3 separate regions of the Homo sapiens genome follow, and regions 2 and 3 are each linked to region 1. Evidence: fine-mapped expression QTL. A gene starts in region 1. Each other region holds a variant in brackets. All regions are shown on one strand. Distances are between the middles of the regions.

Region 1 (8,176 bases):
CAGGTACAGCATGCTTTGGGTTTAGGGTTGGTTGTAAACTATTTTGTGCATTCCTTTAATACCTCATACCTCCCTGTGTTCTAGGCGCTGCTTGCAGATTCTGGCTGCAGGACTGTTCCTGCCAGGTTCAGTGGGTATCACTGACCCCTGTGAGAGTGGCAACTTTAGAGTACACACAGTCATGACCCTAGAACAGCAGGTATTGGGACAGATATGAACTGAGTTGTTTTGCCCCACTCTTTTGAATACTGCTGCTCAGCAGGCAAAGCGGAATATGGTCTTTACGGGTCAGGAATTTGGGGATTCTGAAAGACTTTGGTCCTGAGATTTAAAAAGCTGTCTTAATCTCTGTTTTCAGAAGGGTATTACTCAAATAAGGTCCTTTGATTTTCCTTGCTTACTCTCACTTTGCTTTCCTTCAGGACATGGTCTGCTATACAGCTCAGACTCTCGTCCGAATCCTCTCACATGGTGGCTTTAGGAAGATCCTTGGCCAGGAGGGTGATGCCAGCTGTGAGTGACCACTGTGGGTCAGGGGTTTTGTATTGTAATCTGGTACAGAGAAGCTGTACACTACTTAAATGTCTTTAATATTTCCACAGTGTAAGTAATGACTTTTATGCTGGGCTACTCGTCTAAATCACCTTTTTCTCTTTCCTAGATCTTGCTTCTGAAATATCTACCTGGGATGGAGTGATAGTAACACCTTCAGAAAAGGCTTATGAGAAGCCACCAGAGAAGAAGGAAGGAGAGGAAGAAGAGGAGAATACAGAAGAACCACCTCAAGGAGAGGAAGAAGAAAGCATGGAAACTCAGGAGTGACATTCCCTTCACTCCTTTTCCTACCCAAGGGGGAAGACTGGAGCCTAAGCTGCCTGCTACTGGGCTTTACATGGTGACAGACATTTCCGTGGGATAGGGAAGATAGCAGGAAGAAAAGTAAACTCCATAGAAGTGTCATTCCACTGGGTTTTGATATTGGCTTAGCTGCCAGTCTCCCATTTGTGACCTATGCCATCCATCTATAATGGAGGATACCAACATTTCTTCCTAATATTCTATAATCTCCAACTCCTGAAAACCCCTCTCTCAACTAATACTTTGCTGTTGAAATGTTGTGAAATGTTAAGTGTCTGGAAATTTTTTTTTCTAAGAAAAACTATTAAAGTACTTCCTAGTAGGGCTCTTGGTCTTTCTGGTTGGTGTTTTTTGTTTGTTTGTTTTTTTGCATGTGGCAACCTTTTTTGCTTTTGGCTTTGTGTACTCTTTTGTTGAAAATGATAATTGAGTCATTTAATTATAAATACTCAGATCACAATTTGAAGCTGTCTTTGAATTAAAGGACAAACTCCTGGAACCTTTCCATATACCAGAGTAAACTAGAATATCATTTTAAGTATTTATTGAATAAAATGATTCTATCAACACTGCTACTGTATTCAAGCCAGTGCAATAAAAAAGTGGGTGGACAGAGGTCATTCACTTTGACTTTGCCTGCCCCCTCCAAATCCCCAGTGTAAACAGGAAAATGAGAAGTCACAGGTAGAGGACATGCTGTCCAGGCCCATGTAACCAGGCATGTAACATACAAAGGAAGCCCCTCTGGTTAACTAGTCCTGAAGAAGGTAAGCCTCACGTATGCAGCTTAAAAAAAAAAGTAGAGGCCTCAGCTCATTTGTGAAAGGAAGCAAGAGCCATAATTAATGTAAGTCCTTTGGGAACCTCATTCTGGCTGTGTGTAGGTTTCCTGGGGCCCCTACATAAATGGGTAAGACGAAGTGCTTCAAACAAACTGTACGGCTCCCTTTTTAATGTCTGAAGGTCTATGGGGACTGTCTCCTAGGATCTTTGCATGTCTGTTGAAACAAGGCAGCTGGGGAACAGTACTTGTGCTACTGAGTCCATAGGCTCATCTGTTATTTGCCTGGGGAGCCAGGGGGGTAAATTCCCGAATCCAGCATTGCTCTCCTGCGGGCTGTTTCCTTGGCAACACTGTGGTTTAGCCGTCTCAGTCGTTCCTACAAGACAAGGAAGGTTTGGAATCTTAACCACTGTGAAAGGCTTGAGAGTGTAAGTGAACTAGGTGCTGAAAAATACCGGGCGTGATCTACCTCAAAGTCAGTCTTCAAAAGTATATATAAGAATGTAGGCCGGGCATGGTGGCTCACACTTGTAATCCCAGCACTTTGGGAGGCTGAGGCGGGTGGATTACCTGAGGTCAGGAGTTCAAGACCAGCCTGACCAACATGGTAAAACCCGTCTCTACTAAAAAATACAAAAAAATTAGCTGGGCATGGTGGCGGGTGCTTGTAATCTGAGGCAGGAGAATCGCTTGAAACCGGGAGGTGGAGGTTGCAATGAAATGAGATCGTGCCACTGCACTCTAGCCTGGGTGACAGAGGGAGAACTCCATCTCAAAAAAAAAAAAAAATGTAGGCCAGGCATGGTGCTCATGCCTATCCCAGCACCATTTAGGAGGAAGTGGCAGGAAGATCACTTGAGCCCAGTTTGAGAACAGCCTGGGCACCATAGTGATAGCCTGTCTTTTTTTTTTTTTTTTTTTTTTCCCGAGACGGAGTTTCGCTCTTGTTGCCCAGGCTGAAGTGCAATGGTGCGATCTCAGCTCACCGCAACCTCCGTCCCCCGGGCTCAAGTGATTCTTCTGTCTCAGCCTCCCAAGTAGCTGGGATTACAGGCATGCGCTACCACGCCCAGCTAATTTTGTATTTTTAGTAGAGACGGGGTTTCTCTATGTTGGTCAGGCTGGTCTCCAACTCCCAACCTCAGGTGACCTGTCCACCTCGGCCTCCCAAACTGCTGGGATTACAGGCAAGAGCCACCGCGCCCAGCCGATCCTGTCTTTTTATTTAAAAAAAAAAAAAAAAAGGCCAGGCAGGCCGGGTGCAGTGGCTCACGCCTGTAATCCCAGCGTTTTGGGAGGCCCAGGCAGGTGGATCACTCGCATGCAGGAGTTTGGGACCAGCCTGGGTAACATGGTGAAACCCTGTCTCTAGAAAAAATACAAAAATTAGCTGGACATGGTGGTGCATGCCTGTAGTCCCAGCTACTTGGGAGGCTGAGGTGGATGGATCGCTTGAGCCTGGGAGGTAGAGGCTGCAGTGAGCCTTTATCATGCCACTGCACTCCATCCTGGGTGATAGACCTTGTATCATAAAAATAAATAGCCAGGTGTGGTGGTTCACTCCTGTAGTCTCAGCACTTCGGGTGGCCAAGGTGGGAAGCTCACTTGAGCCCAGGAGTTCCAGACCAGCCTGGGCAACATGGAGAAACCCTACTTCTACAAAAAAATACAAAAATTAGCTGGGCGTTGTGCACGCTTGTAGTCCTAGTTACTCGGGAGGCGGAGGCAGAATTGCTTGAGCCCAGGGGGCGGAGGTTGCAGCGAGCTGAGATTGAGCCACCGCACTCCAGCCTGGGTGACAGAGGGAGACTGTCACACACACACACACAAGAATGTAAATGGCAGCAACTGAATAGTGAGAATGAGACGAATTTTCCTAGGTATTTTTCAAGTACTGGGAGAAGTGAATTTCCCTTTCCCCAAAGAATTTTAAAATTACAGTGGCTTTCACTGTGTTGAGGACTTACAAAAAAGGGCAAAGAATCACTGTTGGTAAGATATTCTTTTACCTGAGCATTCTGTAGAATGTTGTTAACCAAGACAACGCGTCGCCGGGCATTAAGTAGCTTCTTAACATAGGGGTCAAGATCCAGGGCCACCTTCTGATCCTCATTTATGCGGCACAGTTCTGGGGATGGAAGTAAGGTGCAGCTAAGATCTAACGGCTTATCTCTTGTTCTGAGGGAAAGCAGGCTGGTAATGGGATGGAAAACACTTGCACCCAAACGGGCCACAGCCATTAGAGATTTAAGACATCCCTGAAAGGAGGAGTCCTTTGGCAGCCCTGATGCCCTGGAAGCAAGTGACAGAAACTCAGCCCAGGGGTTGGCAAAAACCTAAGGTCCTGAAAGTGGGCTGAAGAATTCCGGGTACACAGGGATGCTCACTCACCTGTGGCTAGGTTGTCAATTTGTTCCCGGAGCTCTACCTGGCTCTCTCTGCAAAGAGGTACAAGGCCTACAAGGTCAGGCAGTTACCGGAGCTCAGGAAACGAACTCCCCTACGTATTTACCAAGTACTGAGAGAAGCCGGCCTCCGCTGAACCCTCCACCTGCGGCCTTCCCGCCTGTCCTCCCCGCCTCGAATCAGTTTCCTAAATTTATGCCCACTCCCAGCCAGAACACTTTCTTGGCCCCGCCCCTACAAAGCCAGAGAGACAGGCCCCGCCCCCAACTTCCCTCCCGGGCACCTGACGGCGTGTACGTGAGAGTCGAGCTGCTGCACAGCGGGTCGCAGGAACTCCAGCAGCCCTTCGGCGAAAAGGTCGCGGCCTGTGGGCCCCGCCACCGGGGTCCCTGCCCCCGATACAGCGGCGGAACCAGCCCCCGCCATCACGAATTGTCCTGAAGCCCGAAACCTGCCGCGAGGGCCGCCGGGAACCGGAGCCGCGCCGCACTGCCCCGCCCCGTGAGGGGGCGCCCGGGAAATGCTGTCTCCACCAAGACACCGGGGTTTCTGGGAAATGGAGTCTAGCGCGAACCGGGCGGGGAGGAGGGCCAGGCCGTAGGAGTAGAGGCCTTGTGGCTGGTCTTGAAAATCTCCAAAGTTCAGGTTGTAGAAAGGAACCAGTTTTTGGAGTGGATACTTTTCGTTTTCTTTAAAGGTGAAAATAAACGCGAATACCTGCAGTTGTCCATAGCCTTCCCATGTTAACTTTATGAGATAGCCGGGCATGGTGGCGGGCACCCAGCTACTTGGGAGACTGAGGCAGGAGAACCGCTTGAACCCGGGAGGCGGAGATTGCAGTGAGCCGAGATCGCGCCACTGCACTCCAGTCTGGGCAACAGAGAGACTCCGCCTCAAAAAAAAAAAAAAAAAAAAAAAAAGCAACCCAAACCAAACAAAAACAAACCAAAAACAAAAACACTTTATGAGAAAGCCACATTATATTCATAGTATCGTTTTCTATTTCTAAAGAGTTTATTGTGGTTGGTTGTTTTTAAGACAAGGTCTCTCTCTGTCGCCTAGGCTGGAGTGCAGTGCCACCGTCTTGGCTCACTGTAGCCTTCACCTCCTGGGGTCAAGAGGTCCTCCTGCTTCAGTCTCCCAAGTAGCAGGGACCACAGGTGTTAGCCACCATGCCTGACTAATTTTTCATTTTCTGTAGAGAAGAGGTCTCACTATGTTTGTTGCCCAGACTGGTCTCGAACTCCTGGGCTCAGGTGATCCTCCCAACTCAGCCTCCTAAAGTGCTGGGATTACAGACGTGAGCCACCACGCCTGGTCTATTTCTAAAGAGTATATTTTTAATGGCATTAAATATGTAAAAAACTGCATGTATCCGAATTTCATTCCTTTTTAAGGCTGAATAATATAAACATGCAGGCAGGGCATGGTGGCTCACTCCTGTAATCCCAGCACTTTGGGAGGCTGAGGCGGGAGGATCACCTGAGCCCAGGAGTTCGAGATCAGTCTGGGCAACAAACCTAGTGAGACTCTGTCTCTACAGGAAATAAAAAATTAGCCAGGCGGCCAGGCGCAGTGGCTCACGCCTGTAATCCCAGCACTTTGGGAGGCCGAGGCGGGTGGATCACGAGGTCAGGACATCGAGACCACGGTGAAACCCCATCTCTACTAAAAATACAAACAATTAGCCGGGCGCAGTGGCGGACTCCTGTAGTCCCAGCTACTCGGGAGGCTGAGGCAGGAGAATGGCGTGAACCCGGGAGGCAGAGCTTGCAGTGAGCCCTGATCGCGCCACTGCACTCCAGCCTGGGCGACAGAGCGAGACTCCATCTCAAAAAAAAAAAAAAAAAAAAAAATTAGCCAGGCATGGTGGCTCACAGCTGTGGTCCCCGCTACTTGGGAGGCTGAAGTAGGAGGACCTTGAGCCTAGGAAGTTGAGGCTACAGTGAGCCAAGATCGTGGCACTGCATGCACTTCAGCCTGGGTGACAGGGTGAGACCCTGTCTCAAAAAATAAAAATTAAAAAAAATTTTTTTTTGAGACCGAGTCTTGCTCTGTCACCCAGGCTGGAGTGCAGTGGTGCAATCTCGCTCACTGCAAGCTCCGCCTCCCGGGTTCATGCCATTCTCCTGCTTCAGCCTCCCGAGTAGCTGGGACTACAGGCGCCCACCACCACGCCCGGCTAATTTTTTGTATTTTTAGTAGAGATGGGGTTTCACCACGTTAGCCGGGATGGTCTCGATCTCCTGACCTCGTGATCCACCCGCCTCGGCCTTCCAAAGTGCTAGGATTACAGGCATGAGCCACCGCGCCCGGCCATAAAAATAAATTTTAAAGTTTCCTTAGTTCACTTATTTTTCCTTTCATTTTTAGAGACAAGGTCTCACTCTGTTGCTGAGGCTGGAGTGCAGTGATGTTATCATAGCTCACTGTAACCTCAAACTTCTGGGCTCGAGCCATCCTCCTGCCTCAGCCTCCTAAGTAACTGGGACTACAGTCACCTGCCCCCATGCCTGGCTAATTTTTTAAATTTTTTTGGTACAGGCAGGGTCTCCCTATGTTGCCCAGGCTGTTCTCGAACTCCTGGCCTCAAGACACCCTTCCATGGTTTTCTTTTTCCCTGAGAATTATGAAGACAATGATTCCTTCCTTAGTTTAGTTCGGTTTGGTTTTTCATGGCTTTCCAGATAATTTACATCTGTCTCCTAGGCTCTAATGTGTTCCCGTGGCTCCCAATTCCCTAGGCCATGGGGAAGGATGTATGAGCAGAAATGCTCCTGGAGGACAGGCAAAGGCATCCATAGTGATAAATGGGCACCAGAACGTTCAGCTTTGAGCTTCATCTTCAGTAATAAAGGAAGATAAGGCATTTGAATCACTGTGAGATTTGGTGGTCAGCAGCTCTAAACCTAAGACCCCAACTGTGATAACTTTTTTTTTATTATTATTTTTTGTAGAGACGAGGCCTCCCTATGTTGCCCAGGCTGGTCTTGAACTCCTGCATCAAGCAGTCCTCCCACCTCGGCCTCCCAAAGTGCTGGGATTACAGGCGTGAGCCACCAAGCCCAGCCCCAACTGTGATAACTTTTAAAACCTTATACACTTACACTGGGTGGGGTGGCTCATGCCTGTAATCCCACCACTTTGGGAGGCTGAGGCGGGAGGATTGCTTGAAGCCAGGAGTTCAAGACCGGCCTGTGCAACATAGGGAGACTCCCATCTCTACAAAAAAATTAATAAAAAAAATAACTGGGCATGGTGGCACACACCTGTAGTTCCTGCTACTCGAGAGGCTGAGGTGGGAGGATCACTTGAGCCTGGGAGGTAGAGGTTGCAGTGAGCTGTGATCATGCCACTGCACTCCAGCCTGGGTGAAAGAGCAAGACTCTGTCTCACACACACACACACCAAAAACCACCTTATACACTTTTTGTCGTTGATTACGTTTGTATCCCTGTATCTTCCTCTCTGGTGATTAGAGGTAAAGCTCTTGCGAGAGGCTAGGAGCTTATTTTGGGAGTAAGTGGCAAGGCAACTGCAACCTGCTTCACAGTCAGGCCTTGGGAAAAGGAAGCCCAGGGGAGAAAGTAGTGACAGTGTTGAAGAGGAATGGAAAAGTGTTGAAATCTCTGAGGCTTGTACTGCAAAGAGAGAACAGGTGTTGACCTGGGCTGGGAGAGGGCCTTGGAGGTTGATGGCCCACTGTTTGCACAAGAAGCCCTTGTGTGTTAGGCCACTGTCCTTTCAGGTGCCTCTTCAATTCTTTAGATTAAATACTCCCTATTGCCGGATTTAGCAAACAGAATAAACAAAACACTTGGGACACCAGGTAAATTTGAATTTCAGATAAACAACAGTTTTTTTTTTTTTTTTTTTTTGAGATAGAGTCTTGCTTTGTTGCCTGGGCTGAAGTGCAGGGGTATGATCTCAGCTCACTGCAACCTCCACCTCCGGGTTCAAGCAATTCTCCAGCCTCAACTTCCCGAGTAGTTGGGATTACATGCGCCCGCCCCCATGCCTGGCTCTTTTTTTTTTTTTTTTAGATGGAGTTTCACTCTTGTTTCCCAGGCTGGAGTGCAGTCGCGCGATCTCGGCTCACTGCAACCTCTGCCTCCCGAGTTCAAGCAA
Region 2 (8,176 bases), 710 kb after region 1:
ACTTGGGTGGGGGCTGGCAAGGCTGCTTGGTCTGTTGGGGTGGGGGGCAGTACTGCTGAGGTGGAGGGCAGCACTGCTGGGGTGGGGGACAGCACTGCTGGGGAGGGGGGCAGCATTGTTGAGGCGGCGGGCAGCACTGCTGGGGTGGGGGGCAGCACTGTTGAGGCGGGGGGCAGCACTGCTGGGGTGGGGGGCAGCGCTGCTGGGGTGGGGGGCAGCACTGCTGCGGGGGAGCACACTGCTTCTGCTTCTGCTGAGACATTCTGGGCTGGACTTGCAACTGGAAACAGAAAGACACAGAAATGAGGAACACTTGAGCCATAGAGAGACCCTAAGCCCAGGTGAACCCCCTGCCACATTCCTGTCCTGCTCTGCTTTTACCTTGCCCTGATCCCTTCACAGATTTAAGAGGAGTGTGTGTGTGTGTGTGCGCGCGCGCATGTGTAAACTTTAAGTGTTTACAAGTTATTTCAACTCTTTTCAAGACAAAGAAACATGGAAGGAAGGAAAGATAGGAAAGGAGGAAGGGAGGGAAAACAGAAATGTTAGGAGGGGTTGAAAAGAAAGAAAAACATAAAAAAAGAAAAGGGAGAGAGAGGAAAAAAAAGAGGAAGAATGAAAGAGCAGACTGTTGTATCCTATTATAGCAAAACCTGTGGCATCTGGAATAAATTGCCTGGGATCTGAGTTCTGGCTAAATCATTTATTAACTATATGATTTTGAGCAACTAAGGTTTTCCATACTTACCTCTCTTAGAGTTGGTGCAAAAATTAAATGAGTATATAAAATACATACTTAAAATATGCATGCATACGTAGGTATGTATGTACCGACACACACATGCAGAGTAGTAGCACAAAATGAACACTATATAAGAGTTGTAATTTGTTAAGTAAATTCATAAACAATTTAAAAGGCGCATCTTAACCACTCTCTAAAGGAGTTTATAAAGAGAAAACTCTAGAGATAGATGAAATGGACTATCTAGCTTGCCTCTCTCAATTACAGTTGAGGAAAGCAAACCTCAGAGGGAAGGAATGGCTTCAAAGCCACTCGGCATAGATGGTGGGAAAAGAGGTCTCCTGATTCCCAGAGCAGAGCCTTCCATGGTGCCACATCGTCTTGTCCCTGCAGCCCTTTGCTCCATGGACATCCACAACTCTGCTGTCCCAAGGGAGTCTGTTCTCTTTCCTTCCTGCCTTCTCTTTTCTTTGAAAGGACAGTCCTTCCAGTTGCTCTGCCCAGAACTGGTCTCTCCTCTCCTACTAATTCCCTCTTAGCACCTGACAAGATGCAACACCCACACCATGCCAGCAGCATCGCTGAGATACTGACCCTCTTGTAGATACCCCCCTCCTTCTCCCTGCTCAGCCCAGCCTCCCACACTACTCTGCTGGATAACTTGCTGGACCCAAGATAGGTTTGTCACAAATGATATGGAAAAAAGAGGTACCCCAAAAGACCCATCCTTTCTGACCACCACCCAGAGAATCAGCCCAGTCCATAGTTGGTTAGGGATGCAGGCAAGGCAAGGCTGCTATAAGAGGTACTACCTTTCCAGACTTACCAAGGTTCACCAGCGACTGGAGCAGATAGGTGTGGAGGGGTTTGGGATGCTCTGAGCCTATCTACCTTTTATATACCTCTCATCCCTGCCTGAGGCCATGAGGTGGCCCAGGATTGGGGTGTCCTAATTAGTCCCTAGTCACAATAGGATCCACCTGTCCTTCCTCAAATTTTAAGTTTTACTCACCCCCAGGGCTGGTATGGCGGGATTTGGAGATGACAGTGCCTTCACCCTCCCCTTGCCTCATCTCCCCATCATTTTACGAGGACTGGCTTCCTTGGATTTCCAAACCCACTCATGACTTTTGACTTAGATCCCTGGCATCTAGGATGGTCCCAAGCAAGCATTCCGACCATGCTGGGTGTGGGGGTGTGAGGGCAGTGTTCTGGGATGTTCTGGTTGGCAGAGAGGAGGGGATGGGACAGGCAGCTTATGCAGGTAACATAAGAAAACAGCTGAGGGGGCAGATGGCTCTCTTGGAAACCCACCACCCTCAGCAAAGTTGTGACTTTGACTTGACCTAGGCTCAGAGTCACATTCAGCTTGAACTGGTGGGAAGACAAGACAAGAGGCTTTCATTTTTTACCTATTGTTATTTATACAAGAAATGGCAGCTGCCACTCTCTGTCTGTTCTGCTATTGGGAAAATCGTTAGGCCCCATTCGGGGAAACTGGTTGGTTACAGTAGATAGTGCTTATCTCTAAATCTCCCTACATATATCACATATCCATATGACTCCAGGGTTCCCAGGGAAATGATTATCATAAGGTGGAGGGGGTGGGGGAAGCTAAGAAGCATTGCATTAGAGTGAGCTCATGGAGGAGTCACAGTGACTGGATTCTGGGTTCTGAGCTCCTGGGGCCCCAGTCCTGGCTCTTCCTCCTAACTTCTGTTAGAAGTTCCAGGACAAAGAAGGGTGGCACGGGATACAGACTTGGATGCTTCCCATACCTGGCAAAGGATGGAGCTCATCTTTAAAAAATTCCCAAGTGGTGCTCAGACTGAGGCTCTGCCTTTTACCAGTTGGGTGACCTTAGGAACCAGATGTTTTTGCACTTCAATTTTCTCACCTGCTAAAGAGGGTAACAGCACCATTCTGCATGTCAGTTGTAAGGATTAAAATGGACAACTTATTTAAAGTATGTGCAAGTGTTTGGCACAAAATGCATGGTCAACAGTCGTTGGGTGCTCCATGGAGATGGGCTTTGAATACTAGGGCAAGACACACTCTTAGAAATATGGAATAGGAAGTTGAAAAAAGTTGGAGGCAAGTAGTGGCACTTGCCACCCAGTGTCATAAGCTCTTGGTTGAAAGAGACAGGAGGAATAAGTTCAAGGAATCCACTGGAAGTCATGTTGACTATAGTTAATAACAATATGTGACATGAAAATTGCTAAATGAGTAGATTTTAAGTGTTTTCGCCACACAAAAATGATACATATGTGAGGTAATACATGTATTAAATAGCTTGATTTAGTCATCCCACAATATATTCATATATCAAAACATCACATTGTACACTGTACATATATATAATTTTTACTTTTCCCCTAAAAATACATTAAAAAAGACTTTTGAGTGAGAGAAATGGAAATAGGCAAGCTAGTCCTGAAGATGGCACATTTTAAATCTCAGCCATGAAATTTAGCCATGGTTCCACTATTTAATAAAAGCCTTAGAACATCCCAAGACCTTGGGGAGTCATGCTGCATCACTAGAAGACACAGGTGTGGAAACCGATGTTCTCTCTCTTAAACCATGGTCCTGACTCTCTGGGATCACAAGATGTGCACGGGCTAGTAACTAAGGAGGGCCAGAGGAGTCCAGCCCTTCCCAGGAGGAGAATCCCTTCAAGCTGGTATCACTCAGACAGAAGCAGCCCCAGAAAGCCTGAGAGAGGGATTTCAGCTCAGGTCCCTAATAGCAGAGAAGAAAGACTATGTGGAGTTGTTATCCTGGGCTAACCATTTATTCATTAAGATGCAATTGTTCCATGTGCCAGGCACTATGTCCATGCTGGGGATGCAGGGGGAAGCAAGGATGGCCAGGCCCTTGCTGTTTCCAAGGCAACAGGACAGAGGGAAGCCTGGCTTGGCAAGTCTGTCCTTGTGAATCAGGCCTTTGTAGATGGGAAGGGGCACTAAAACTGTGTCACGTCCTCTTACCTTCTTACTTCCAACTCTTACAGATACTTTTCAATTGTTAGGTTTGTATTAACCAAAGAAATCAAACCCACATGTCACTGGAATGATGCCTACATGGCTGAAGAAAGTGTGAACATCAGCTAATTTGTGGGGCTTGGGGTGTTAAATCCTGTTAATTATTTTTTGTATGTGCCCCAACCACCTAGGACAGGTTTTTTTGTGTTTGTGTGTGAGTGTGGTGGAGTCAGCTACCTCAAGAATGTATAACACAGAACTGCTTCTGACACCAGAGGACAGAAAATGAATGGGTAATCTAGAAGCCACTAAGAAACCCAATTACTTATCCCAGGTTTTGGAATGGTATTAACCACTGACCTTCATTAGCATTGCTCTCTGTCTTTCTCTTTCTTCAATCCTGACTCACACACACACACACACACACACACACACACAC[ACACG/G]CACACACACACACACACACACACACACACACATGCATGCACATTTACACATAAACACAGGGGTCTTTCCTATACTCTGGCCCCAAGTATTTATGGGGGCATAAGGCCAGCATGCAGTAAAGTTGATGAGATGGAAGGTGGTATCTTCTGCCAATTTTTTTTTTTTTTGACAGAGTCTCACTCCGTTGCCCAGGCTGGAGTGCAGTGGCACGATCTCGGCTCATTGCAACCTCTGCCTCCCGGGTTCAAGCAATTCTCCTGCCTCAGCCTCCCAAGTAGCTGGGATTACAGGCATGTGCCATCATGCCTGGCACACCCGGCTAATTTTTGCATTTTCAGTAGAGATGAGGATTCGCCAAGTTGGCCAGGTTGGTCTCAAACTCCTGACCTCCAATGATATGCCTGCCTCGGCCTCACAAAGTGCTGAGATTATAGGCATAAGCCACCATGCCCGGCCTCTTCTGTCAATTCTCAAAACATGTGAACATACCACCTACCATAGGTTCCTATCTGCCGGGAAATGACTTCCCACATCTGCGTTGCTCCCATATGGCTAAGGCACAACATGGCTCTTGAGGACATCATTTTCCTCTTCAGATTTTCTTAGGAGTTCATCTCCTCCTTATTTCACTTTCATAAACATGAACTTGATGGTGAGGTGGCAGGGATGGAGGTGTATACTAGGGGCAGGGGTGGGTGGCCCTGCCCCCCAGGATGCCTCTGACTTGTGAATAGACACCCACTCGCTTGGCTTCTAGTTCTGGGCACTTGCAGAACATCCAACCTGAGAAAGACCAGGACCTATCTGGGCAGAGGGTAAGGGCAAGAGCTTAGCAGTGTTCCAGTCACTCAGCACATGTGCAGGAGGCAAACCCCACGCCAAGTCCTGTGGGGGATGGGGAGCTGTGTGACACATAGAGCCAACCCTCTCAGAGCTCATGATCTTCTTGGGGAAATAAGGCCAGACCAGCTATGACAGAGGAGCTGGTGCTGGCAGCCAGCATTGTGAGCCAGGACCTGAGGGGTGATATGGAACAAGGGTGGTGAAGGAGCTCAGAGGAGAGGTCAGCCTCTGAGATGGGCCTGATGTTGGCAGAAAGGCACTGGGGAAGACAGAAAATGACCCTTAACTGTGGGCCCTTTGTGGGAAGAAACACTGACTTCATCTTTGTATCCTAGCACCTAGCAAAACTATGGTTCAGAATTGAAGCTAAATTGTTTTCTGTGAAATTAATGAAAGAATGGTCTGAGAAACTGTTTGAGGGTAGAAAGATGCTTTGTGTGTCTGGAAAAAGAAGAAGTCAACATGAGTGTAGTGGCTGAGCAGTGGTGATGAGCACTGGGCAGTGGACATGAGACCAGACCCCAGCGAAGGCCTTGCACTCTAGACTAGCCAGGAGAGCTGAAATTGCAGGGTGGGAGGCTGGGTCCTGTTTCTAAACAGTGCAGAGGTTACCTTTAGGGTGGAATCTTCTACCAATGTTATAATGTATAGTATAATGTATAGTTTTCAAAATTCTATTGATTATAATAAGGAGGTGGACAGGCACTAGTGTATATTTAGAAGGCCTGGGTGTTCTAGCTTCTAGCTTGGCCGGTAATTGTGTGCTTTTGGATGGTTGGTTTCCACTCTCCGGGGCTCAGGTTTTCTATTCTGTAAAGAGAATCATCCCCAAGGTCTGTGCCAGGTTTGAGCACAGTATAATTTTCCCAAAGGAGGGACAAGACTGAAAGTATTCTGGGGATGGATTTGACAGTGGAACTCAGGGTGAGGTGGGGTAGGAGTGAGGATGCACGAGATGGAGGCAGGGAGACCAGTTGGGAGGGAAGAAATGATAGGGCCCTCACCTAGGATGGCAGCAATAGAAGTGGGGAGGGAAGACAGGCTTAAGAATGACTTGAAATGAGAAAACCCAGGACTGGAGGACTGAGAGGAAGGAAGGAAAGGGAAGGAGGAGGCAAGGGGACCTCATGATTCTAAGTGACAAAAATGGGGCATACAGATATTAGGCCTGAGAGGAGGGAAAAAAAAGACATTTGCTTACACACATTGTGTCTGACAGAGCAGAATACCCAGGAGAAGCAGCAGGGCAGCTGGAGAGGAGGGAGTGATGTCAGGGATGTCACCTGCTGGGCACCAGATTTGTGCCAAGCACTAGAAAATAAATGACAGAAGCATAAGCAAAGAAGCTTTAGGCCCCAGAAGGTCCAGTCCTCTGCCCTGGTAGCAGAGGCAGAGGACTGGTCTGTCGGTCAAGGACCACAGAGTGCCCTGGACTAACAGGTGCCAGAGCTGGAAGGAGCCCAGTAATCAGGAAAAAAACATTCCCAACTCTCAACCCAAGCACTGTGCCAACACCGGATGACATTCTCAACAAGCCACAGAGAAATGAGAAATGTTTCTGCCCACAGGGGTCCACAGTCTGGGGGCCTTTCCTGTCTTCCCCAGTGCCTTGCTGCCAACACCAGCCCCATCTCAGAGGCTGACTTCTCCTCTGAGCAGTTGGTATAAGGTTATTTTATAGCAGTTGGTATAAGATTAGTGGCTTTTATTTCTTTGGAAGGTCTTTTGTTTATTTTTTGATGCTATATTCTTTTCACAGTTACTAGTACTAAAATTATCTTTATTTTGTAAAGTGATGGTTGTTACAAAGGGCCTTTGCCCTTACTTGGCAAAATAAAGAGTTGTTCCTTATTGACTATTTTTTTTAAAATTTAGGTTTAGTGAAACCCAAACACCTAAGAACCACTAATGTGGTCTCTCAAGCCTAATCACTAACAAATATGGAATAGGTGAATGAAAAAAGAGAAATGACTTACTTGAGGTCACATTTTATAAGATGCCATAGAGAGGGCTTGACCGAAACCCAAAGCCAACCAACCAACCAAACAAATGAGGACTTTGGGTGATGTCAGAATCTCAGCTGGAAATTCTCCCCTCCTGGCATCCCTGTTCCTAAAAGCCAGGCCTTTGCAGAGGTGGCAGGACCAGGCTTATCATAGCAGCCACACCCCATCCCTCCCGACTCCTCCCAGACTCTCCAGGACACAGTGTGAAGCTCTGGTCCATCCCTCTCAGCCTGGGAGACATGCTGTGGCCTGCATGGTGACTTCACTGAGACAGAACCCAGTCCGGCTCATGCCTCCTCTGCCTTTGCCCAGTCTCTCAGATCCTGGAGGATTAACTCTTTCATATCACCCACTCTCTTACCGACTCCTAGGGAGCCTTTAGTCGTGGGTCAGGAGCAGTTCATCTCCATGGCCCCCACAGCCACCTGGCTTTACCATGCCCAGACCCAGTGACTTGACCATCGTGAGAGAGGAGTACCGGGGTACTTTGATGCCCCAGCAGACCAAGACATACCCTCATCCTGTATGGCCTCATGCTATGGAATGAAGTCCCTGAAGGACTGAAATTCTGCAGTTCTGCCTCCAGGAGGCTCCTGCTTTCTGTGGTGATCTCTTTCATGCCCATGGTGTGAAATGCCACCTTTCCTCGAAGGACCAGCAACTTTTTATCCCTAGATCCCCAGGCTGGGCCTCTACCTTGTCCTTCAGATCCACCATATATCCAGTTGCTGCCTCAATATCTCCGTTTAGGGCACAATGATGTTTTGATCTATGCAAACATATATTACACCCCATAAATTAATAAATATGTGTATGTAATTATTTGTCAATTTAAAAATAAATACATTTATTTTAAAAACCTTTATCTAGTGTTTCAAAGGCTCATTGATTTCAGCATGTCCAGGACTGAACTTCTCATCCCTTCCCCCTGCTCTCGCCACACCTACCATCCTCCTGGCAGCCCTGGCAGCAGCTGGGAACTACCTCTAACTACATCCACTTGCCAAGTCCCATTGACCCATCTCTAGGTCACTGCCCTAGGCTGTCCTGGCTTTACCAGCTCTTGCCTTCACTGCTGAAGAGGTCCCTTGCCCATCCCCTTGTCTACAGTCTCTCTCTCTGCAAACTCTCTTCTACATAGAAGCCAAAATGAT
Region 3 (8,176 bases), 25 kb before region 1:
CTGCTGGAATGGTGGCCTCTCCTGTGGGTCCTCAGCCCAGCACCGCTGCATGAGCAGCCCCAACTCCTCCAGGTGACTCTGCAGGGCCAGGGAGGGCCGGAAGGGGGGCTGCTCACCCCGAGTCACCCGCTCGATGATCTCTGTATTGGGGGGGTAGAGGAGCTGAGGGGTGGGGCTGGCCAAGGGCCTAGTGAGAGACTGGGGCAACCAGCTGAGATGGCAGGGGAAGTCCAAGACCAAGGCATGGGGGCGGGGGACTGGTCACTGGCAGCAATGGGTCAAAGGGTGGTGACTGAACCCCATTACAGAAGGAAGGTGTGGTGGTGCTGCCAGGGGACCCTCTCCCTGGGGCTGGGGTTCGTTGAGACTGTGGCTGGGTTTAAGGAAGGTGTGCTCCTCTCACCTTTGGGGCTCAGGTCCAAACCTTCCACGTGGAAGACCCCACTCCTCAGGGCAATCTCCTGAAGGATGATCCCAAAGCTGTATACGTCACCAGCCTGGGAGCCCCGCACAGGGGGTGAAGCCATTCGCAGGAGCTCAGGGGCCGTCCACAGCTTTTCTGTGGGTCAGAGGTCGGTAGTCACCGAGTGAGGGAGCCCAAAGCTAAGGGGTGAGGGGGAAACAAGGGTGTGGCCGAAACTGATCTGGATGCATCACAGAGTGTTAGAGCTAGAGGAGGCCTTAGAAACCACTTCGTCTGGCCTTCCCTTTTTCATGGGTGAATGAATTGAGGCTGGAGTCAGGACAAGCATGCCCAAGCCCATCAGAGGCCTTGCATCAGTCTCCCTACTGGGTGGTGCTGGGGGCAGGTGTTAGGTTCAAGAGTCAAGGCTCACTGGCATAAACGGTGTGTCCTTGCTCTGGGTCCAGGTCCCTGAAGCTCTCCAGCCCATAGTCGGTGATCTTGAGCACAAAGCGCCCATCTACCACGCAGTTGGATGACTTGAGGTTCCCATGGGAACAGATAGCCCCATTGTGTAGAAACAGCATGCCCTGGAAATGTGAGTGGGCAGAGGTATTGGCCAGGAGTGGGACCTACACCCGTGGCCAGGAGAAGCATGCCTGGCCCCTGCTCTACACATCCAATAGGTGCTTAGGGGCATACCTTGACGATGTCATTGGTGAGTGAGTACCGGAACATCCAGTCCAGGGTGATGCTCTCATTCTCCAGAATGTCCTGCTGGGGCAATAAGAGTCAGACCAATCCCCTGCAGATCCCCCTGGGAGTTGGAGGAGGGTGCAGGGTCCTACTGATGTGAACTGGTAGAACAGGACAAAACTTTGGATTGACTCTAGTGCCACTGCCCTTCCCCAACTCCCATTTTTACAGATGGGGCCAGAAAGGTCAGAAAGAGGGCGAGGCATGCCTGGGGTCTTATGGCCAGTCAGGGGCAGAGCCAGGGCTAGAACCCAGGTTTCTTGACACCCCTTGTCCCCCTCACCTGCAGGCTCCCACGGGGACAGTACTCTGTGAGGATGCAGATATTGGGGGGGTCGGTGCAGGCTCCCACAAACCTGGTCAGGTGTTCATTCTGCACATCCCGCATCTGCAAGTGGGACCAGCATCAGGAGCTTGACAGAGACCTCGCTCCTCACCAAGCTGCTCACTAGCTTCAGGGACCCTCACTCTTCTTAACTCCTTATTCACTTTCTGCAACCATCACTAAGATCTTCCCTGGTGATTCCCACCCATGTCCTTTAGCCCACCCTCCCCAGAATCTGCTCCTACTCCCTCTGCATCCTAAGCCCTCTCTCCCCCAGGGACATCACATATGGCCCCTCAAGATTCCTCCAGGTTATCTCCAGTGGTCTCTTCTCCTAGCTTAGGATACCCCCACTCCCACCCACAAGATGAAGGTCCATCCCAGGGCTCCAGTCCCTGCCCCTTTCTTGGGGTACCCTGAGGTCCCTCCATAACTAGTTCTGTTGGCCAGTCTCCCTTGCGTCCCCGAGGGCCCCTTCTCCATGCCACTGCCTCACTCCCCACATTACATGCTTCAGTTCAAACAGGACTTTTCGTGTCAGCTCAATGCGTTTACGGTTCACACGTTTCACAGCCACGAGGTTGCCCTGGGCATGGAATGGAGACTGTCACTGTGAAGAGCATGGTCCCATGTCCTGGGAATTCCAGCTGCTCCCGACAGCCCATCCCTGCCCTCAGGACCCTCACTTGTTCCCAATAGCCCACCCCCAGGGCCCCCATCTGCTGCTCCCCACCAGCTTACTCCTTCCCTCAGAACCCCCCACCAGTCCTCCATCAGAGTACACTCCTGCCCCAGTCCCAAGGCCCAGTGATCTTTCCCCAGGCCCACCTTATAATATGCTGTCTTGGCAAAGACTTGGAACTGGCCCTCTGTGGTTAGCAGGGAGCCGTAATTGGAGCCTCTCTGAAAGGAGGGAGAGCAGGAGGAATGGTCAGCCGGTGGGCCCAGTCTGCATCCTGATTGCTTGTGCTCTGGTCTTTATTTCCCTGCCTTATCCTGCCTTATCTTTGTGTCACCCTTCCTTTTTGTTGTTGGGTTTTTTTTTGAGATGTAGTATCATTGTGTCATCCAGGCTGGAGTGCAGTGGTGCTATCCTAGGTCACTGCCGCCTCAGACTCCTGGGCTCAGATGATCCTTTCACCTCAGCCTCCAGAGTAGCTGGGACTACAGGTATGCGCCACCATGCCCTGCTAATCTTTGTATTCTTTGTAGAGACGATGTCTTGCTCTGTTGCCCAGGCTGGTCTTGAACTCCCAGGCACAAGCAATCCTCCTGCCTCGGTCTCCCAAAGTGCTGGGATTGCAGATGTGAGCCACTGTGCCTGGCCCACCCTGCTTTATGTTCCACATCATAAAATTTCCTCCTCATTTACTTTTTTTTTTTTTAAAGTGTTTTCACAGGTACTATCTCCTCTGACCTTTAAAAGAGCCCTGTGAGGGAGGCTCTGCTGCTGTAATCATCATCTGAGACAGTCTCGGAGAGGGACTATGAGTCGCTCAAGGTCACACAGCAAGTGAAAGCAGAGCTGGGACTAGAATCCTGCTCCCTTACCTATCCCTCAGGCACTGCCCCTTGTACCCACCTCTCCTTTATTGCCCCCCAACACAAACACCAGCGTTCTTACCCCGCTCAGGGTCAGCCGGCTGCCTGCACTCCGCAGGTGCCTCTCAAGGCTACTGGGCTCAACGTCCTCCCAGCGCACCCGCCACAGCTCCGAGGCCAGTTCCTTCTCCAGCTGCATCTTCCTGGGATACGAAGGCTGCATCTGAGCCTGTGGCTGAGCCGCTGACCCAGGGCAGGGTGCTCAGCAGCCCCTCCTCAGAGCCGTGGGACCACACCATGCACTCAGAGATGGAGGGGGAATTCTATCCTCTGGACTGAGAATCAGGATGGCTGGGGGAAATTCTGCCTTACTGGGGACCTTGGGGGAATCACCTCAATGTCCTTACTTGGGAATGAGGCCGCAATATCTATTTCATTCTTAACTATTATAAGAATGAAAAGAAATAGTGAACATGAGGCCAGGCACAGTGGCTCATGCCTGTAATCCCAGCACTTTGGGAGGCCAAGGTGGGTGGATCATGAGGTCAAGAGATCGAGACCATCCTGGCCAACATGGTGAAACCCTGTCTCTACTAAAAATACAAAAATTAGCTGAGCGTGGTGGCATGTGCCTGTAGTCCCAGCTACATGGGAGGCTGAGGCAGGAGAATTGCTTGAAACTGGGAGGCGGAGGTTGCAGTGAGCCTAGATCATGCCACTGCACTCCAGTCTGGCAACAGAGCGAGACTCCGTCTCAAAAAAAAAAAAAAAAAAAAAAAAGAAAGAAAGAAATAGTGTACGTGGAAGTGCCTGGCACACATTATATGCTCAACCAGCAGTGATTTTTCTCCCCTCCCTCCTTGCTTTTGTATATCATTAACTCCTCCTGTACTTCATTTTAGCCTCCACTGGACGGCAGGAACAAGGCTCATTCAGCTCCCTTCTCCATTCTAGGTTGGGCACCTGGCACACACCAGGGCTCACCCTCCTCAGCTAACATGGGCATGATTGCAAAGGTTCAGAAAGTTGCTTCCTATCTGGCCTGCAAGAGTAGCAAGGAAAACCAGTCCACGCCCCTATGATGTCACCCATCAACTTCTCTGCTTCTTGGATCTTTCTGACTCTCCTTGGCCATTCCTATCCTTGTCTCCTCCCCTCGCCCTGCCATTCCCTTCTCTTTCTTTCTCCTCTGGCTTTTAAGCCTCCTTTCTTCCTCATCTCCCTTGGTTTTCCCCTGGTGCCCCTTCACCCCTGCCCTCTTCCCTCTGGGTCCCCACCGCCTCCTCTGCTATTGGTTCTCCGGGTCCCCCAGCCTCACTCAACCCCCCACATCACAGCTCACCTGTATATGAAGAAGGAGACAATCAGAATGCCGAGCAAGGAGAGGCTGCCCACCAAAGCCAGCACCTCCAGGGTGGAAAGGTGATCTGCAGGAGAGAGTCCATATTGCAGCAAGAGAGATTTGGGTTAGACAGCAGGAGGAAGAACTTTCTAATAGTCCATCAGTGAACTGGGATGATGGATGAAGGGAAGAAAAAGGCAGGAGTCATTCTCCAGAAAGCCCTCAGCATGGG[A/G]CAGGAGCACCTACTCGACTGTGCTTAGGGGAAGGATGCAGCATCTCTGGGATGGAGGCCTGGAAGGCAAGGGGCAGTCACCTTGGTTGCATGCTGGGTCTTCGTTGTCAAAGCCACATTTGGGGATGTCAGGAGGAGGGTACCCCAGGGGCCAGTTCAGTTTGCGCCCCGACACAGCCACCAGCTCTTGGGAAGTCCCATTGTAGTTCAGTACAACCTAAGGGAGAGCAGGAGTGGTGGCTAGGCCAGGGCCTGCGGGGAAGGCATGCTGTGAGTGCAGCAGTCTCACCTCCCACCTACCCCAGCTCTGCTTCTAGAGCCTACATATATATCTGGGTTGTCACCTGCTTACCAAGTCCCCACTGCAACTGGACACAGGACCTCATACCACACACATAGTACTCAAGTGGAAACACCTGAAAACTATCAAGGGGTTTATAAAGAAAACTCCATTTAGAACCCGATCTCTACACTCAGGGAGTTTATAATCTTGGTTGAAGTACCAACCAAGCATTGATTTTTCTCTACTTATTTTCTTGGTAGAAAACAGGAGAAGGTAATGTTCACCTTAGCCTACATTCGCAGGCCCAGTCCATGTGCCCGTCTTCCAGGAGGCCTTCTCTGGATGACCTGTCCCTTGTGGCCATTGGCCTCAGCGCCTTCCTGTCCCTGCTCGCTTGCAGAGCTGTGTAATGTGCATCTTTCACAGCCCTGTCTCTGCTGGGAGGCGGTCCTGCCTGCCTCCCTTCGGAGCTCCCCGAGGGCAGGCTTGTGCTCCCTCCTCAGGCATGGGGCTCCCCAAGTGTGATGCCTGTGAGTCCCTATCATTCTGGTGGCTTCCCCAGACTGGAGCTGGGTCTGTTTTATCCAGGGCTCTTGTAAGTGTCCAGGCATGGTGGAATGGCTACAGGATAAACAGGTGCCCTGGCAGGGCTGTGGGGGGGAAGTAGGAGGGTGAGATGTCATTTGGAATTGGCACTGTCTTCTGGGTGCACAAACTTACCCTGAAGGCACCATTCTCGGGATCCATATCCCAGAGGGAGAAGTCTGTTTCCCGATCGCCACTGCTATCAATTTTCAGGTATCCTGTCACACCTGAGGACATGGGGGAAGATGACTATGTTTGAGAGAATAGAAGTTCAGGGGTGCCCCACTTCATCTCTTCATCCTCTAATCTTTTTTGCCTTGCCTTCCAAACATACATGTATACAGAATGATAGTAAATGGTAAAACGGCCGGGCACTGTGGCTCATGCTTGTAATCCCAGCACTTTGGGAGGCTGAGGCGGGCAGATCACCTGACGTCAGGAGTTCAAGACCAGCCTGACCAACGTGGTGAAACCCTGTCTCTACTAAAAAAAATACAAAAAATTAGCCAAGTGTTGGTGGAGGGCACCTGTAATCCCAGCTACTCAGGAGGCTGAGGCAGGAGAATTGCTTGAACCTGGGAGGCGGAGGTTGAAGTGAGCCGAGATTGCACCACCACACTCCAGTCTTGGGGACAGAGCGAGACTCCATCTCAAAAAAAAAAGAAAAAAGAAAAAGAAAGGTAAAAGAACTCAGTGCCCAGCAGGGATGATTGAGATTGGACACTTTGTAGGACTTCTGAGGGATGGGCCTGAAAAAAGCTGTGGAGGAAAAGGCTGGTGTGCATAGGTAACTGCTGCAGGACAATAGGCTTCTCATGGCTTGACACTGGGCACCTGGGATTCATCCCCCAAGGCAGCCCATTCCAGCCACCTCCAGGCCCTGACCTTGAAAGCTTCGGTTCCACATCCGCTGAGTGATGTTCTCCCCATCAGTAACAGTTCCCCCATGTGCCAGAGTCTCCGTCACTGCCTGGATATAGAGCAGGAGCCCGTCGTGGAAGGATGCTGGGATGGTGTTCACCTGTAGGGGCAAACAGAGGTCGGCTGGGGTGGGCATATGAAGGGCATGGAGGTGGGAGCTGTGGGGAAGGGAACAAGAGGCACTGGGATTTTGGAAGAGGATGGGAGAAAATAACACCCCTATATCACAGGGAGATTTTACTATTTAAACGATGCCTTTGGATTAGCATCACTTCCTGAATCCTACTAGGTAGACAGGGCAGGATGTATCGTCTCCATATTACTGATGATGACCTGAGTTTCAGAGGCTGAACTTGCCAGTGTCCTCCTCCATCATCACGAGAAACATGGAACAATGGGAAGGGAGGGAAGGAAGGGGAGAACTGGGAATAGGGAAGGATGGAGGCTGGCAGAGGGTCATGGAGTGGGGGCTGGAGGTCCACGCTGGAGGGTCCCGGGACCCCTTCTTACCAGGCCATCCTCCATGGTGAAGTTGAACTGCTCATAGGCCAGGTGTTTTAACTGCTTCAGGAATTCCAAGTACTCGGGATTATCTGGGTCTTTATATGTAATGATTTTGGCAGCCTGAGAAAGGGGTCAGTGGAGAGCAGAGAGTTGGGAGCTGACTATTCCCTAGTACTGTGGGGCCCCAACAGTTGGGAGCCCACCTCCCAGAGCTGCGTCTCTGCTTAGCTCAAGGTCAAACTGGACCCTATGCCCTGCATGAAGTGATGCCCATTCCAAAGCAGGGGATCCAATGGGATGCCTTCTCCAAGTCCTGTCCAGGCTGTGGGACTTTATCCTCCTCCCGCCTCAAGCCCATTTTCTTATCTTTTTAGCCTGCTGGTGGCGAAGCGCCCCTGGGCAGTCCCCTGCCCTTCATTGCCTAATTCCCAGTGAGCATCACCAACCTCTTTTCTGTTCTGTGAGTTACCAGGAGTGCATAAAGAAACAAACAGACAAAAACCTCTTTTCTGGAATTCTTTCAGACGCTGAGGGACACAGTGCCCAGAAATGATGTGCCACAAGCTGAGACAGCCTGGGCTTCAAACCTAGGTACTCACCTGAAAGGCCTGGCGGGCACTGACATCCTGCCCATCCCCTCTCTCCCAGGGCCTGCGGGGAGCAGGGCCCTGTCCACCTTGCAGGCTTTGCCCAAAGATATCCAGGTGGAAGAAAACGTAGTCCTCCCCACACAAGCCAGCTTCCAGGGCCAGGAGCATGAGGGTTCTGAAGGCATCAGGGGAGCTGCAGATGTAGATAACTGGAGAAAGACGGAGAGTCAGAGAGAGAAGCCTAGGTACTGCGGGAGAGACAGGAGTAGGAAAGCTGGGGCACCCAAGGGAGGAAGTTTAGAGATAGGGTGCAGGAGAGACCCAGTGAGAGTTAAGTGGTAACTCCCGGCTCAGCCTAGGCCACAGCAGGAGAAAGTCGAAGGGTGGAACGGGCGGGTGCGGGGCGGTGGGCGGGAGGAGGAAGGGGGAGGCGGAAGGGAGGAAGGAACGGGTAGGGAGAGGGGGATAGTGGAGCTGAAGGTGGAGAAGGATGGGGCCAGGAGGGAGAGAGGAGGGAGAGGGAGGGGGAGAAGAGAGGGGATGAGGCGCAATGAGAGGAGAGGATGAAAGAAGGGAGAAGGCTATAGGGAAGAGAGAAAATGTGGGAGGGAAAAAGGGACCGGAACCGAGCTGTGCTAGGGTGGGAGGGAATGAGTGGGGGTCGGGGAGATGAGAGGATAGAGACGTGGTGGG

Alleles and levels. Positions count from the first base shown, and alleles are read on the strand shown. Sizes are in standard deviations (SD) of each study's normalised expression. Not every link is listed here.
With allele G in place of ACACG in region 2, the expression in fibroblasts of the gene that starts at base 4,515 in region 1 is higher (large effect, 2.0 SD a copy in GENCORD).

The links. PIP is the estimated chance that this variant, and not a neighbour inherited with it, causes the effect.
Region 2: its variant is fine-mapped to the expression of SNAPIN in fibroblasts (GENCORD, PIP 0.95).
Region 3: its variant is fine-mapped to the expression of SNAPIN in lung (TOPMed, PIP above 0.99).

The regions. Positions count from the first base shown.
Region 1 is chr1:153,655,042-153,663,217 of GRCh38, reverse strand. SNAPIN (SNAP associated protein) reads right to left here and starts at 4,515. Exons shown (of 4, transcript NM_012437.6): 1 at 4,332-4,515; 2 at 4,034-4,080; 3 at 3,652-3,770; 4 at 1,366-2,018. The coding sequence starts at 4,474. The coding sequence ends at 1,917. ILF2 (interleukin enhancer binding factor 2) reads left to right here. Exons shown (of 14, transcript NM_004515.4): 11 at 1-3; 12 at 85-199; 13 at 423-513; 14 at 662-1,430. The coding sequence ends at 822. RefSeq lists an enhancer at 4,670-4,749.
Region 2 is chr1:152,940,641-152,948,816 of GRCh38, reverse strand. It overlaps SPRR5 (small proline rich protein 5), which reads right to left and starts at 1,611. Exons shown (of 2, transcript NM_001395435.1): 1 at 1,569-1,611; 2 at 1-280. The coding sequence starts at 262. The region is part of intron 1 of LINC01527 (long intergenic non-protein coding RNA 1527); the gene reads left to right. The variant ACACG/G (reference allele first, on the strand shown) is at 4,169.
Region 3 is chr1:153,680,017-153,688,192 of GRCh38, reverse strand. NPR1 (natriuretic peptide receptor 1) reads right to left here. Exons shown (of 22, transcript NM_000906.4): 2 at 7,493-7,692; 3 at 6,900-7,013; 4 at 6,354-6,489; 5 at 5,604-5,695; 6 at 4,682-4,817; 7 at 4,369-4,453; 8 at 3,109-3,229; 9 at 2,313-2,387; 10 at 1,993-2,070; 11 at 1,443-1,547; 12 at 1,106-1,177; 13 at 837-993; 14 at 404-559; 15 at 1-140. Among named protein-coding and RNA genes, the nearest start is that of NPR1, 5.4 kb to the right of the region's middle. RefSeq lists enhancers at 1-585, 84-1,283, 2,687-3,186, 3,187-3,688. The variant A/G (reference allele first, on the strand shown) is at 4,601.